Linked DNA regions of Homo sapiens: region 2 is linked to region 1. Evidence: fine-mapped expression QTL. Tissue or cell type: regulatory T cells. Region 1 holds a variant in brackets; the other region holds the start of a gene. All regions are shown on one strand. Distances are between the middles of the regions.

Evidence for each region. PIP is the estimated chance that this variant, and not a neighbour inherited with it, causes the effect.
Region 2: C19orf53 starts here. The variant in region 1 is fine-mapped to the expression of C19orf53 in regulatory T cells (Schmiedel 2018, PIP 0.95).

The regions. Positions count from the first base shown.
Region 1 is chr19:13,576,194-13,584,296 of GRCh38, forward strand. No RefSeq gene overlaps it. Among named protein-coding and RNA genes, the nearest start is that of CACNA1A, 74 kb to the left of the region's middle. The variant TC/T (reference allele first, on the strand shown) is at 4,739.
Region 2 is chr19:13,769,481-13,777,583 of GRCh38, forward strand. C19orf53 (chromosome 19 open reading frame 53) reads left to right here and starts at 4,976. Exons shown (of 3, transcript NM_014047.3): 1 at 4,976-5,094; 2 at 5,172-5,227. The coding sequence starts at 4,998. MRI1 (methylthioribose-1-phosphate isomerase 1) reads left to right here. Exons shown (of 6, transcript NM_001031727.4): 6 at 2,641-4,802. The coding sequence ends at 2,801. RefSeq lists enhancers at 4,667-4,736, 4,807-5,006, 4,983-5,512, 5,513-6,041.

The DNA of each region.
Region 1 (8,103 bases):
ACACCAGGCACATTCCTGCCTCAGGGCCTTTGCACTTGCTGTTCTCTCTGCTTGGAACTTCCTTTCCCAAGAACTTTGCATGGCTGGCTCATCCTCTTCATTAAGCACTCAATTCAAATATCAGTTCACCAGATGAACCACCCCTAACCACCTTTTCTTAGGTTCTCCTGTTTCAGTCACGTTTTACCCCATCGCAGTGTTATTGTCAATCTCACTGCCTCAAATTATTGTATTATCTATTTACTAGTATATTATCTGTTTTCCCTTATAAAATTTAAACTCCATGAGTGTAAAGTCCTTGTCTGATTTGTTCTCTGCCTCCAAAGTGTTCAGTGATAAGTTGGTGAGGTGATGGGTATGTTAATTAGCTTGATTGAATCTTTCCATAATGTACACATAGGTTGAAATATCACATTGTAGCCCATGAATATATACAATTGTTGTTTGTCAATTAAAGTCATTTTTAAAGCTGCTTGATGAATCTCTGTTGAATGATTAATGAATGAACCTCATCCACTTCCATCCCTTCTATAACTATGTCTATGTAGCACTTACTGTGTGCCAAGCACTGTTCTAAGTAATTTGCATGTATTAATTAATTTGATGCTAACAATCTCTCTGAGAGGTAGGTGATGCAATTATCATCCCCATTTCATAGTTGAAAAAAACTGAGGCACAAGATGTTGGTCCAGTAACTGGTATACAAGCCAATGAAATCTGGATTTGGTATCAGAAGTGGGGTGCCGTTAAATGCACTAAGATTACAAAGCTGGTAAGACGTTGGGCCAGGATTTGAAGCCAGGCACTGTGGCTCCTGAGCCTACAGGCTTAGTCACTCTGTTCAATTTCTCACAGTTCCCCAAACACTATTTCTACCCACTTTTAGTCTCTTCTGCTCTGTTCCCCAATTTCTTATAGCCTCCTAGGCAACTCCACTTTGACTCTCCCCAAACTAGAAATCTCAGATTTCCCTTTGAACTCACCTGTTCTTTCACTTCCTAGATGAAGTGGTACTTAACTTGTTTATAATTCAGGGAGCCTGTAAATTTGGTTGGGAAAATTCGCATATTCATTACAGCCTCTAGCTGTAATTATGCATGGAGGCAACAAATTGCAGCAATATTAGCAGTGTTCATGACACCTGTGACTTTGTCATCAACAGAAACCACATCTCAGCTGGGGGCAGTAGCTCACGCCTGTAATCCCAGCATTTTGGAAGGCCAAGGCAGGTGGATCACTTGAGCTCAGGAGTTTGAGACTGGCCTGGGGAACGTGGTGAAACCCCCATCTCTACAAAAAAATACAAAAATTAGCTGGGCATGGTGGTGCACACCTGTAGACCCACCTACTCAGGGGGCTGAGGTTGGAGGATCACTTGCACCTGGGAGGTAGAGGCTGCCATGAGCTGTGATCTCACCACTGCACCTGGGAGGTAGAGGCTGCCGTGAGCTGTGATCTCATCACTGCACTCCAGCCTGGGCAACAGAGTGACTCTCTCTCAAAACAAACAACCAACCAAAAAACAGAAACCACATTTTTATTATGTCACATTGTAATTATTGCAGATATCTTGAAACTCACTTACTCTCATGACTACCTTGAAGTTGTTAGGTCTGTTACTAGCTCTTGTTATTTATGCATTATGAAAGAAACACATTAGTGATGTATGACAAATCTGTTCTTTCAAATATTTTTATAACTAATGTTCAATGTAATTGATTTCCTCTGCATTTGATATTATGCACTTAAAAAGCACAATTCTGAGAAGAGATCCCTTGGCTTTTGTCAAACTGAAGAGAGCTCCACGGCTCAGAAAATGTTAAGAATCTTCACGCCAGCCAATTAGCAAGTGAATCCTATTGATTCTCCTTCTAAAGTGTTTCTTAGATCCTCTCCCCACCTTTATTCCCAACACTGCTGTCCTAGTTCAGCTATCTCCTGACTCACTGGCATTGCCCCCCTCCACACCTCCCTCTTGCTCATCTTCCCCTCCCAGTTTTAAAAATCTATGACAAAATTAATAACTAGTATTTACACTGAGTTTTAGGGTTTACAGCAGATGTTACAAACTCAGAGCTCACAAATTACTTCCTTGATCTATCCACATCTTAAGATAAAAATATGTTCAGAACAAGTCAGGAGATTACATATAAAAGTGAAATTTTTGCTTTTTCTCAAAAACTCAGACGATTTACCCGAGCTGAGCCTACATTCCTGCATGACAGCAATCAGCTTCTATTGAATAATGGTTATATCCTTCAGATGAGCCTGGAGCTATCTAGTTTGCCAAAGACCTCACCACTCTCTAATGTCTCCCTGACATGGAAGCTGCCCCAGTCACCATTACCCACTTGGCCCCTGTAGACAATTGAGTTTAGCAACCCTGGATTTCAAAGTACCTTATTTGATCCTTATAAAAGCCCTGCAGAGTGTGTATGGTACAGATTCTTATCCTGTTTTACAGATGATGCAACTGAAAACTCATGAAAGTTAAATAAAACACAGGGTCACGTAAGAGTAGAAAGAGCTGGCATTTTTCTCTCCAGACTCTGTACTTCCCACTGACCTGGACTCTTTTCAGAAATTACTTTGTAAAACACCATTATGATGTGTTGAAGTGCATGGTCTCCCATCAAAAGACCTCCGATGCTACTCAGGAGGCTGAGGTGGGAGGATCTCTTGAGTCTAGGAGTTCAAGACCAGCCTTGGCAACATAGTGAGACCCCGTCGCTCAAAAAATAAAATAAAATAATTAGCCAGGCATAGTGGTGTGCACCTGTAGTCCCAGCTACTTGGGAGGCTGAGGTGGGAGGATTACTTGAGCCCAGGAGTTCCAAGCTGCAATGAGCCATACACGATTGCACCACTGCACTCCAGCCAATGGTGGACAGACCTCCAATAGCCTGGTCAATGAAAATGGGATAAATCCCAAGCTTCCCAAGGTGATATCTGAGCTCCTTCAAACCTGGCAGCCTCCCTTGCAGCTTCTGCTTTCAAGTTTGACACGCCCCTTCTTTAAAGTCAGACTTTTGAATGTTCAATTATGCAAAGCCACCATGCTATAAGGAAGCTCAAGCTAGCCACATGGAGAGAAAGAATATACTGAAAAAGCTCATGTTTGGTGCAAACATGTGAGTGAAACCTCATGGACTGTCCAGCCCTGCCAGCCATCAACATAACGCAGCTAAATGAGAGACTGCATTATGTTGAGATTACAGCAGAACCACACTCCTGAGTTTGCAAACCCACCTTCTTATCTATTTGAGATACTCACGTGCTCAGACACAAAAACTAAAGATAAAGACGTGAGTAAGTAGATCAAACACACTGCAGGGAAGGTTAAAATATGTAGCTACCAGTAGGAGGCACTATCCCCAGAGCACTGATTGTCAGGAGGCATGGGAGGACCCAGGAAGGGACTTGGGTGGGTGGGGGAGCTCACTAGGGGCCTCCAGGCAACAGCTATTTACTAACTGGTGTGGAAATATTTTAATATTTTAACAATCAGCTGTGCCAATGTGTCTCAGCTGAATATCTGCCCTGAATACACAGAAAGGAGATTATTGAAGCCAAAAGAATAAGAATCCAAGCCGTGAATCATACTGCAATCATTCCGCCTTGGCTTAGAAATGGATTAGACACCATCATGTTTTTTCATTCCCCAGTGGATTTTAAATTTCCAAGTTGGTATAAACCTGGGGGCCTCTGCTGAGTGTATCATAAGTAAAGTGGAACGTGATGACTCGCACACTGGCTAGAATCGCCTGGGAACTTTATTTTTATTTTATTTGTATAGCAGCAGAGTCTTGCTCTGTTGCCCAGGCTGAAGGGCAGTGGCATGATCATAATTCACTGCAGTCTTGACCTCCTGGGCTCAAGCAATCCTCTTGCCTCAACCTCCCGAGTAGCTGGGACTACAGGTGCATGCCACCATGCCTGGCTAAATTTTAAACAAAATTTTTCGTAGAGATGGGATCTTGCTATATTGCCCAGGCTGGTCTCAAACTCCTGGCCTAAAGCCAGGAGCCAGGCCTCCCAAAAGCACTGGGATTGCAGGCATGAGCTACCATGCCCAGCCTACCAGGTAACTTGAAAAGTGCTAATGCCAGGACCCTACATCCAGAGTTGGATTTAATGGAGTAGGGCCTGGACATCATGATTTTTAAAACAGCCCAGATGATTGTGCAGCCAAGGTTGGGAACCACTGATGTAAAGCCATGCTTCTTAAAATGCGGTCCACAAACCAGCAGCAGCAGCATCACCTAGGAGCTTGGAGAAATGCAGAGTCTCAGGCTCTGCTGGGACCTACTGAATCAGCAACCCCAAGGTGAACCCAGAAATATCTGTGTTTTCACAAGCCCGAAGGGGGGGGCTGATGTGTGCTCAAGGACCAGAGAGCTGGCAGAATGAAAGATCCACTACCTGTTTCTCTTGCAAGACCGCCATGCCACATGGACGCAAGGTCAATGAAAACCCTCCAAAACTCCACTGTGCCATGAACATGCTGGGGTCTCCAAGTCCAGCACACAGGCTAATCTGGGGCTGGAGACTTTGTTTTTTGTTTTTGTTTTGAGATGGGGATCTCACTCTGTCACGCAGGCTGGAGTGCAGTGCTATGATCACAGCTCACTGCAGCCTTGAACTCACAGGCTCAAGCGATCCTCCCACCTTCCCACCTTAGCCTCCCGAGTAGCTAGGACCACAGGCACGCACCACCACGCCTGGCTAATTTTTTTTT[TC/T]TTTTTTTCTGTACAGATGGGGGTCTCACTATGTTGCCCAGGCTGGTCTCAAACTCCTGGCCTCAAGCAGTCCTCCCACCTCGGCCTCCCAAAGTGCTGAGATTACAGGCATGAGCCACTGTGCCTGGCCATGGGCTGGAGATTTTGGACACAGATCTCAGGAGACTGAACCAGACTCTGGAAAATTGGCTGTGCTTGTGGGAGCCAACCAAGGGAACATTTAAGGTACGCCTGAGAGGTCCCACCAAAGGGGGAAAGAAAATGGGTGAAAATGAGTCCTACCCTCTGCAATTGAGAAGCCCAAGGAGCTCTCCAACGGGCTGCACCTGCTCCTGCTTTAGGGAGCCTCTTTTTTTTTTTTTTCTCGCTCTGTTGCCCAGGCTGGGGTGCAATGGCACGATCTCGGCTCACTGCAATCTCCACCTCCTAGGTTCAAGCAATTCTCCTGCCTCAGCCTCCCGAGTAGCTGGGATCACAGGTGCCCGCCACCACGCCCGGCCAATTTTTTGTATTTTTAGTAGAGAAAGGGTTTCACTGTGTTAGCCAGGATGGTCTCAATCTCCTGACCATGTGATCCTGCCACCTTGGCCTCCCAAAGTGTTGGGATTACAGGCGTGAGCCACCGTGCCCCGCCAAGCGAACCTTTTTAAATGGGGACATCCTCATTCTAAGGCAAGCACTGAAGAGTTCCAGAATGTTCCCGCAGGCCCACCCGCAGGACCAATGCACGGACTCCGTGCCACTTTGTGATGGATTGTAGTCATGCGTGTCTACTGAAAAGCCTTACATATTGTGCCTTGGGTGCTGCCCTGTGTTCCGAAGCTTGCTTCTAGGGCCTGTGCACTCAGCCGTGAACATTTAAATGGCAGCTTTGAGACAAGGCCTCAGCTGTTCTCTGGTCCAGACATAAGAAGCCAGAGCTTTGAAAATGGACCCAGTTCGGCCAGGTGCAGTGGCTCACACCTGTAATCTCAGCACTTTGGGATGCCGAGGCAGGCAGATCACCTGAAGTCAGGAGTTTGAGACCAGCCTGGCCAACATGGTGAAACCGCACCTCTACTAAAAAATAAAAATTAAAAAATTAGCCAGGTGTGGTGGGCAGGTGCCTGTAATCCCAGCTACTCAGGAGGCTGAGGCATGGGAATCACTTGAACCCAGAGGTTGCAGTGAGCCGAGAAGTGCACCACTACACTTCAGCCTGGGGGATACAGTGAGAATCTGTCTCAAAAAAAAAAGAAACAAAGAAACAAAGAAAATGGACCCAGTTAAACTTGTATGAATTTGAGAAAGTTTTTTTTAACCATTCTGGGCCCTAGTTTCCTAATTTAAAAAAGGGAAGAGGTGAGCCAGACACTGTGGCTCATTCCTATAATCCCAGCTACTTAGGAGGCTGAGGCAGGAGGATTGCTAAAGGCCAGGAGTTTGAGGCCAGCCTGGACAACATAGAAAGACCCCTGTCTCCACAAAAAAAAATTTAATTAGCTAGTGTGGTGGTGTCCACCTGTAGTCTCAGCTACTCAGAAGGCTGAGGCAGGAGGATCACCCGAGCCCAGGAGTTCAAGGCTGCAGTGAGCTATGATTGCACCACTGCACTCCAGCCTGGGCAACAGAGCGAGACCCTGTCTCTTTATTTATTTGGTTTTTTTTTTTTTTGAGACAGAGTCTCGCTCTGTTGCCCAGGCTGGAGTGCAGTGGTGCAGTCTTGACTCACTGCAACCTCTGCCTCCTGGGTTCAAGGGATTCTCCTGCTGTAGCCTCCCGAGTAGCTGGGATTACAGGTGTGCACCACCATGCCCAGCTAATTTTTTTGTTGTTTTTAGTAGAGATGGGGTTTCACCATGTTGGCTGGTCTGGTCTCAAACTCCTGACCTCAAGTTATCCACCTGCCTCGGCCTCCCAAAGTGCTGGGATTACAGGTGTGAGCCACCACGCCCGGCCCCCTATCTATTTAAAGAAAAAAAGAGAAGAAGAAGGAATTTGCACATATATCCTATATATTTGCACAAATAAAAAAATAAAAATTAAATTAAAAGGAGGGAGGAGTAATTAAAGATATGATTTTCCAAGATTGTCCTAAAAATAAAAAAGAGAGTATGAGTGCCTATGGCACTGATTGGCATGTGGACAGGATAACGTGCTTCATAAATGTTAATAAGAAAAATAAATAGGCCTTCCTATTTGAGACTTAAGGGCGTTTGATATCACCATCTCTCCAGAAAGGACCATCTGAAACATCCTCTCTTAGTTCCCATTAACCTCTCACTGTGATTTATAGCAGAAGTTAGCAGTCAACGTCCTGCAGGCCAGATACAGCCCACTATCTGGTTCTTTACAGAAGTCTGCAAATCCTAGATTTAGAGGTCAGATTTTCATCTCTCAGCCACAAACACATTCCAACCTCATATCTTGCTTTCACCCAGCCTTTACTAACCACCTGCTATATGCTAGGCTCTGGTGAAACATAACCAATAAGATAAAGTCCATGCCCTTTTGGAGGTCACACCTCGGAGTATGGGTGGGAATTTGTTCATTTCACTTAATTTAACAGGCCTAACCAGGTGCAGTGGCTCATGCCTGTAATCTCAGCACTTTGGGGGGCCAAAGGTAGGCAGATTGCTTGAGGTCAGGAGTTTGAGACCAACCTGGCCAATATGGTGAAACCCTGTCTCTACTAAAAATACAAAAATTAGCCAGACATAGTGGTGGATGCCTGTAATCCTAGCTACTCTGGAGGCTGAGGCAGGAGAATGGCTTGAACCCAGGAGTGGAGGCTGCAGTGAGCCAGGATCGCATCGCTGCACTCCAGCCTGGGCAATAGAGTGAGACTCCTTTCAAAATAATAATAATAATTATTATTATTATTATTATTTAACTGGCCATTCCTGCTTATAATGTGAGATGCACTGTCCTAAGCATTTTTCAAATGCTTAATTCTTGTAATGACCCTATGAAGTGACTGCTATTTTTTTCCTGCATTTTGCAGGCAAGGAAACAGAGGCTCAGAGAGGTGAAGTCACTTGTCCAAGGTCACACAGCAAATAGTTAGAACCAGGGTGTGAATCCAGCCAGACTAGCTCCAGAGCCAATAAGCTCCACAGTCTCCTTATTCAGAAGCCCTTGACCTAGCATACAGATGGAGGCACTACACATAAATATTGACCAGGCGGTGCCCAGACCACAGAAGGAAAAAAAAAGAAAGTGACTTATCCTTCAAGACACTGTTATTTGAACCTGGCCTTGTCAGTGCTCTCTCCCAGACTTTCTGCACTAGGAACTGTTGTTATCTTCCTTCAGTGCTCAGAGAGGCTGTGGCAGTTGCCCAGGGTCGCCCAGCTCTAACAGGATGAGCTGGGATTTTCAAGGT
Region 2 (8,103 bases), 190 kb after region 1:
AACAGGTGCATCCTGGAGGTCAGATCCAATGTTGGAATTTACAACTAACCGGTTATATGAATGATCTTGAGTAACTGTCTTGCTATTCTCCACTTAGGTTTTCTTAAGAGGAAATAAGAATATCTGGCTGGCCACGTGTTTGTAAAGAAAAACCAAGACGGCCAGGCGAGGTGGCTCACACCTGTAATCCCAGCACTTTGGGAGGCCGAGGCGGGCAGATCACAAGGTCAGGAGTTCGAGACCAGCCTGGTCAACATAGTGAAACCCCGTCTCTACTAAAAATACAAAAATTAGCCGGACATGGTGGCACCCGCCTGTAGTCCCAACTACTCAGGAGGCTGAGGGAGGAGAATCACTTGAACCTGAGAGGCGGAGGTTGTGGTGAGCTGAGATTACACCATTGCACTCCAGCCTGGGCAACAGAGTGAGATTCTGTCTCAAAAAAAAAAAAGAAAAGAAAAAGCAAGATATTTCTACACTTATTTTTATTTGTTTATTTTCATAGAGATAGGGTCTCGCTATGTTCCCCAGGCTGGTCTCAAACTCCTGGCCTCAAGCGATCCTCCTGCCTCAGCCTCCCAAAGCACTGAGATTACAGGTGTGAGCTCCCATGCCTAGCTGCAAGACTTTTCTTAGCTGCCTATACTTCCTGGCTGTGCAACCGTTAGCAAGTTCCCTAAATTCTCTAATTCCCTAAGATCCTCACTGGTCCTATCTGTAAAATGGGCTATGGCTAGAACCTGCTGCATAAACCCAAGGGCGGTCAGTGAATTAACCCACAGGACATTTAGATCAATGACTGGCCCTTTAAATAGTTCATGCACTCAGATGCCGTGGCTCACGCCTATAATCCCAACACTTTGGGAGGCGGAGGTGGGCGGATCACTTGAGGTCAGGCGTTCCAGACCAGCCTAGCCAACAGAGCGAAACCACGTCTCTACTAAAAAAATATAAAAATTAGCCAGGCGTGGTGGCACATGCCTGTAGTCCCATCTACTTGGGAAGCTGAGGCATGAGAATTGCTTGAACCTAGGACGCAGAGGTTGCAGTAAGTTGAGACTGCACCACTGCACTCCAGTCTGGGTGACAGAGCGAAACTCCATCTCAAAAATAAAAAAAAAGGCCGAGCGCTGTGGCTCACGCCTGTAATCCCAGCACTTTGGGAAGCCGAGGCGGGCGGATCACCTGAGGTCGGGAGTTCAAGACCAGCCTGACCAACATGGAGAAACCCTGCCTCTACTAAAAATACAAAATTAGCCGGGCGTGGTGGCACATGCCTGTAACCCCAGCTACTCAGGAGGCTGAGGCAGGAGAATTGCTTGAACCCGGGAGGCGGAGGTTGCAATGAGCCAAGATAGCGCCACAGCACTCCAGCCTGGGCAACAAGAGTGAAACTCCATCTCAAAGAAAAAAAAGAAAAAACAGTTCATGAAATATTAGCATGAACCAATATTAGCATTATGGGGCCAGGTAAAATGGCTCACACCTGAAATCCCAGTATTTTGGGAGGCTGAGGTGGGAGGATCACTTGAGCTCAGGAGTTCAAGACCAGCCTGGGCAACATTGCCAGACCACAATCTCTAAAAAAATTGTTTTGCCAGGTGTGGTGGTTCATGATTGTAACCCCAGCACTTTGGGAGGCTGAGGCGGGCGGATCACCTGAGGTCAGGGGTTCGAGACCAGCCTGGCCAATGTGGTGAAACCCCGTCTCTACTAAAAATACAAAAAAAAAAAACGTTAGCTGGGCGAGGTGGCAGGCGCCTGTAATCCCAACTACTTGGGAGGCTGAGGCAGGAGAATCGCTTGAACCTGGGAGGCACAGGTTGCAGTGAGTTGAGATCATGTCACTGCACTCCAGCCTAGGTGACAAGAGCAAAACTCCATCTCAAAAAAACAAAAAAACAGCTAGACATGATGGTGCACATCTGTGGTCCCAGCTGCTCAGGAGGCTGCAGCAGGAGAATCGTTTGAATCCAAGAGGCAGAGGTTACACTGAGCCAAGATCGCACCACTGTACTACAGCCTGGGTGACACAACGAGACTCTGTGTCAAAAATAATAATAATAATTAAAAATAAAACTAAAAAAATAAGTGGGATGGGCCAGGTGCGGTGGCTCACGCCTGTAATCCCAGCACTTTGGGAGGCCGAGGCGGGCAGATCACCTGAGGTCGGGAGTTTGAGACCAGCCTGACCAACATGGAAAAACCTCGTCTCTACTAAAAATACTGGCTGGGCATGGTGGTGCATGCCTGTAATCCCAGCTACTCGGGAGGCTGAGGCAGGAGAATTGCTTGAAACCTGGGAGGTGGAGGTTGCAGTGAACCAAGATCGTGCCATTGCACTCCAGCCTGGGCAACAAGAGCAAAACTACATCTCACAAAAAATAAAAAAATAAGTGGCATAGATGTGTATAGGACTTTGAATTTTTCTTGGGGACTGACATTCTAGGGGCAGTGGCGAGTCTAAACTTACTATTGAGTACAATGTCCATGCCTGCATGTACTTTTGGGGTGAGAATCCTCAGGTTCTCAAGGACTCCCCAACTCCAAGAACCACTGTGGTAGAAACAGATGACTACAACCTGAGAACTTTCACAGAAGCAAATTCTTGCCTCCTTGCCTCCCCTCTCTCCCCTGCAGGGATTGGAGTTTGGAATCCTGCCTTCGATGTCACCCCCCACGACCTCATCACTGGTGGCATCATCACAGAACTGGGGGTCTTTGCCCCTGAGGAGCTCCGGACAGCCCTAACCACCACCATCTCTTCCAGGGATGGAACCCTAGATGGACCCCAGATGTAACCAACTCAGCTCTCCCTAGCCTGCCTCTCTAGGTTTTTCAATACATTTCTTGAATGGCTACCCAAAAGCTGACCGTCCAGCCCCTGACCACACTTGTTCCTAGTGCAGGGAGCTCAGACAGGGCCTTCCATCTAGAGCCCAGCACCTAGAGCCAGGCTGCCCAGATTCAAATCCTGACTCCGCCACTTTTCCCACTGTATGATCTTGGGCAAGTCACTTCACCTCTCTGTGCCTTGGTTTCCTCATTTATAAAATGTGGATAACAGGCCGGGCGCAGTGGCTCACACCTGTAATCCCAGCACTTTGGGAGGCCGAGGCAGGTGGATCACAAGATCAGGAGATTGAGACCATCCTGGCTAACATGGTGAAACCCCATCTCTACTAAAAATACAAAAAATTAGCCGGGTGTGGTGGTGGGCACCTGCAGTCCCAGCTACTTGGGAGGCTGAGGCAGGAGAATGGCGTGAAACTGGGAGGCAGAGCTTGCAGTGAGCCGAGATAGCGCCACTGCACTCCAGCCTGGGCAACAGAGCGAGACTCCGTCTCAAAAATAAATATAATTAATTAATTATTTAATTAAAAAAATAAAAAATAAATGTGGATAATACTAGTACCTCCCTCTTAAGGTCAGGGCTGGAGCTAGGGTGACATCTCCAGGGCAGAATTTTAAGAGGACACCAAAAAAGCTCAGCAACCAAGATAAAAAATATTTTAAAGCAATATTTTGTTTTGGGTTTTTTTTTTTTGAGATCAAGTATCACTCGTTACCCAGGCTGGAATGTAGAGGCGAGATCTCAGCTCACTGAAACCTGTGCCTCCCCGGTTCAAGCGATTCTCCTGCCACAGCCTCCTGAGTAGCTGGGATTACAGGCATGCGCCACCATGCCCAGCTAATTTTTCTATTTTTAGTAGAGACATGATTTCACCATGTTGGCCAGGCTGGTCTCGAACTCCTGACTCAAATGATCCCCCTGCCTCAGCCTCCCAAAGTGCTGGGACTACAGGCATGAGCCACTGTGCCTGACCTTACAGCAGTATTTTTTAAAAATCAAAATTAATGCAAAAATCCATGATGAGGCCAGGCTTGGTGGCTCATGCCTGTAATTCCAGCACTTTGGGAGGATCCCTTGAGCCCAGGTGTTTGAGACCAGTTTGGGTAACATAGGAAGAGCTTGTCTCTACAAACAAAAATTTAAAAACAATGAGCTGGGCATGGAACTCACACCTCTAGCCCCAGCTACTCAGGCTGAAGTGGGAGGATGGCTTGAGCCCAGGAGTTCAAGGATGCAGTGTGCTTTGATTGCACTACTGCACTTCACCCTAAGCAACAGAGTGAGACCCCATCTCTTTAAAAAAAAAAAAAAATCCATGATGAACAAAACAAGTATTTGTTTGAGACGGGGTCTCGCTCTGTCGCCCAGGCTGGAGTACAGTGGTGCCATCTCAGCTCACTGCAACCTCCGCCTTCTGGGTTCAAGCGACTCTCCTGCCTCAGCCTCCCGAGTAGCTGGGATTACAGGAGCCTGGCACTATGCCTGGCTAATTTTTGTATTTTTATTGGAGACACCATGTTAGTCGTGGCTGGTCTCCAACTCCTGACCTCGGGTGATCCGCGCCCCGCGGCCTCCGAAAGTGCTGGGATTACAAGCGTGAGCCACCGTGCCCGGCCTAAATAAAATTTTGAAGAGGCTAGAACCCCGCACTTGTGCCTTGAGCTTACTGACCTCAACACCCTGGTTCCACTAAAACTTTATTTACAAAATTATGCTGCCGGTCTGCAGGATGTAGTTTAACAATTTGATTATTTTGGATATTAAAATATTTTTTAAGTCTTGAAAATATTGTTTACTATTACCAAAGTTTTTGAACCTTCTTAAATTCTGTACCAGAGGTGAGTGCCACACCCTAACCTAGTCTGAGTTTTTATGTGTAAAGATCATAAAACGTTGTAAGTTTTCTAAAACACATAAGCTCTCAATAAACGTTAGCTTATCATTGTCACCGTTTTGTTCGTAATGTTTGAAAACTCCAACTGTGATCCACTACACTACCCTTGTGGGATGCTGTCTCTTTAACTCTGTGCCACGTTGTATCCCGTGAGTTCTTGCGTTTTTCCGCCCCGCTGTATCCCATGGTTCCCTGTGCCTTCCGGCTACGACTGCTCACAGTCCCGCCTCTTCCGCTGCGTGCCGGACCATGGCGCAGGGGCAGCGCAAGTTTCAGGCGCACAAACCCGCAAAGAGTAAGACGGCAGCGGCAGCCTCTGAAAAGAATCGGGGCCCAAGAAAAGGCGGTAAGGAGCGGCCCGGGGACTTGGGGGCGAGGTGGACCCCCGGCTTCCCGGCCTCACGTGAGCACATCTTTCCCCAGGTCGTGTTATCGCTCCCAAGAAGGCGCGCGTCGTGCAGCAGCAAAAGCTCAAGAAGGTGTGCGGGGGCGAGAGATGGAGCCCGGAGGGCGGCGAGTAGCGAGGGGTGGAACCCGGAGGACGGCGAGGGGGGATGGGTGGAGCCCGGGGATCAGTGAGGGGAGAGGGTGGATCCTGGGGACGAGCTAGGAGCGAGGGGATAGAGCCAGGGGCCGCGTTAGGAGCGAAGGATGGAGCCCGGGGCGCAGAGAGGGGTAAGAGGTGGAAGCTGGCGAGGGATAGGGGCTGGGGGACGTGCTAGGGACGAGAGATGAAATCTGGAGGCCGGCGAGGGAAGGAGCACAGGGATCGGCAAAGGGCAAGGGATGAGGCCTGGAGGACTCCCAGCTCTGTGGGCCTCCCTTTTCTTCCTTGTGCAAGGGGTGCAGGAACACCACTTACCACTTCAAAAGGGCCTCGTAGAAGCAAGACCTGCGGCCCAAAAAGGGTTCCAATAACGTCAGCCTCTTGCTGTTACTGTTTTCTTTAATTGAACTCAGGAAGACAGCGAGGTGACATGGGAAGGGAATTGAAAGCCCAGCTTTGTAAACCTAGAACAGCAGAGGGCTCAAAGAAGTGTGAGGGTGCGTTGGTTATCGTCATTTTTTTTTGAGTCAGGGTCTCACTGTTGCCCAGGCTGGAGTGCAGTGGCCCCATTATAGCTCACTGCAGCCTCAGCCTCCTGGACTTAGGCAATCTTTCCGTCTCAGCCTCTCGAGTAGGTAGAATTGCAGGTGCTCGCCAATACGCGGCTAATTTTATTTTTTTTGTATTTTTGGTAGAGACAGGTTTCACTATGCTGCTCGGGCTGGTCTTGAACTCCTGGCCTCAAGGCATCCTCCCGCCTCTGCCTCCCAAAATGCTGGGATTACAGGCGTGAGCCACCCTATGGTTGTTTTTAAGTGCAACATTTATATGTAGATGGGTAAGGTTGAGCTTGTAAAGAAGTTGGAAGGAGATTTAAAACTGGTTTTGGTGGGAGTCAAACCTGGGTTTGAATTGTACTCCACAGTAAACAGCCCTGTGATCTTGAGCAAATTGTTTCGTCACCCCAGAGTGTCGGTTTTCTCAGAACTGGGTACCCACTGGCCCGCTTACCTCCGTGGAGTGGGGAATCTCATGGTCACCTTGCACTCAGCATGTCCAAAACCAAATTCCTGATCCTCCCTTCCCATTCTGCCCTCCTCCCCCTGTGATCACTTCCTTCCAGATGCCATAGGTCATCCTTGAATCCCTCCTTTCTCTCACATCCCGGTCTCATCCCATTTGTTTTGTTTTGTTTTTTTGAGATGGAGTCTCGCTCTGTCGCCCAGGCTGGAGTGCAGTTGAGTGATCTTGGCTTAGGTGCAACCTCTGCCTCCTGGGTTCAAGCGATTTTCCTCCCTCAGCCTCCCGAGTAACTGGGATTACAGGCCTGCACCACCACACCGGGCTAATTTTTTTTTTTTTTTTTTTTTTTTTTTGTAATTTTAGTAGAGATGGGGTTTCACTATGTTGGCCAGGCTGGTCTCGAACTCCTGACCTCATGATCTACCCGCCTCGGCCTCCCAAAGTGCTGGGATTACAGGCATGAGCCACTGTGCTCGCCCCTATTTTGCCCTTAGAATCAATCCAGAATCCACCCGCCTCCCATCTTCTTGGCCCCTACCTGGTCCCACCCACATCATTTCCCACCGGGACCAGTGCAGCCACCTTCTCCCTTGTCTCCTGGATCCCACCTGGTCCTCTCACAGAAGCCAGAGGGTGCCCATGAGCACCTGAGTCGGTTCCCTCCCTCCTTGGCTCAGAATCCTCCATGGCTTCCACCTCACCCAGGAAAAAGGTCCAGTCCTCACTCAGCCACAAGGCCCTGTAGAATCTGCCCTCGTCTCCTTCCACCCTCTCCTCTGCTAACTCCCTCTAGCCTTACTGGCCCCTGACCCCTCCTTCCCGGAGCCCTTCCTGGGCTCCTTGTCCCACCTGAGAACTTTTGCACTGGCTGTTTCCTCTGCCTGGATTCCTCTCCCAATAATACACACTGCTCCCTTCTTCCAACTCTCTTCAAAGAGGCCTGCCTTGATGGTGACCTGTACCCATCCCTCCTCACTCCTGTTTCCTCTTTGCCATAGCAGCGCTTACCATCCTTTAACAGTGTAACATATTACGCTACTGATGCTTATATTGTCCCGGTACATGCACTGAATTCCAGCTCCATGACCCCTGCATCCAGGCACCTGGTTAGCTGTCCCGATGCTGGTGATCGTGGTCATTGGAACTGTTTTTGTTTTTTGTTTTTGTTTTGAGATAGAGTTTCGTTCTTGTTGCCCAGGCTGGAGTGCAGTGGTGCGGTCTGGGCTCACTGCAACCTCTGCCTCCTGGGTTCAAGCAATTCTCCTGCCTCAGCCTCTCGAGTAGCTGGGATTACAGGCGCCCGCCACCACACCTGGCTACTTTTTGTGTTTTTAGTAGAGATTGGGTTTCACCATGTTGGCCAGCCTGGTCTAGAGCTCCTGACCTCAGGTGATATGCCTGCCTTGGCCTCCCAAGGTGCTGGGATTACAGCCACTGCACCCAGCCGGAACTTTTTTTTTTTTCTTTGAGACGGTCTCACGCTGTCCCCCAGGCTGCAGTGTAGTGGAACGATCATAGCTCACTGCAGCCTGGACCTCCTGGGCTCGACCACCCAAACAGCTGAGACGAGAGGCACGCACCAGCACACCGTGCTAATTCTTTCTTTTAGTACAGATGCAGTCTCGCTGTGTTGCCCAGGCTGGTCTCGAGTTCCTGGGCTCAAGTGATCTTCCTGCCTCAGCCTCGCAAAGTGCTGGGATCACAGGCTTGAGCCACCACACCCAGTCCGTCGGAACTCAGAATGGCAGGGCAGAGGCAGTCTGGGAAAGGCGACTGAGCCACCAG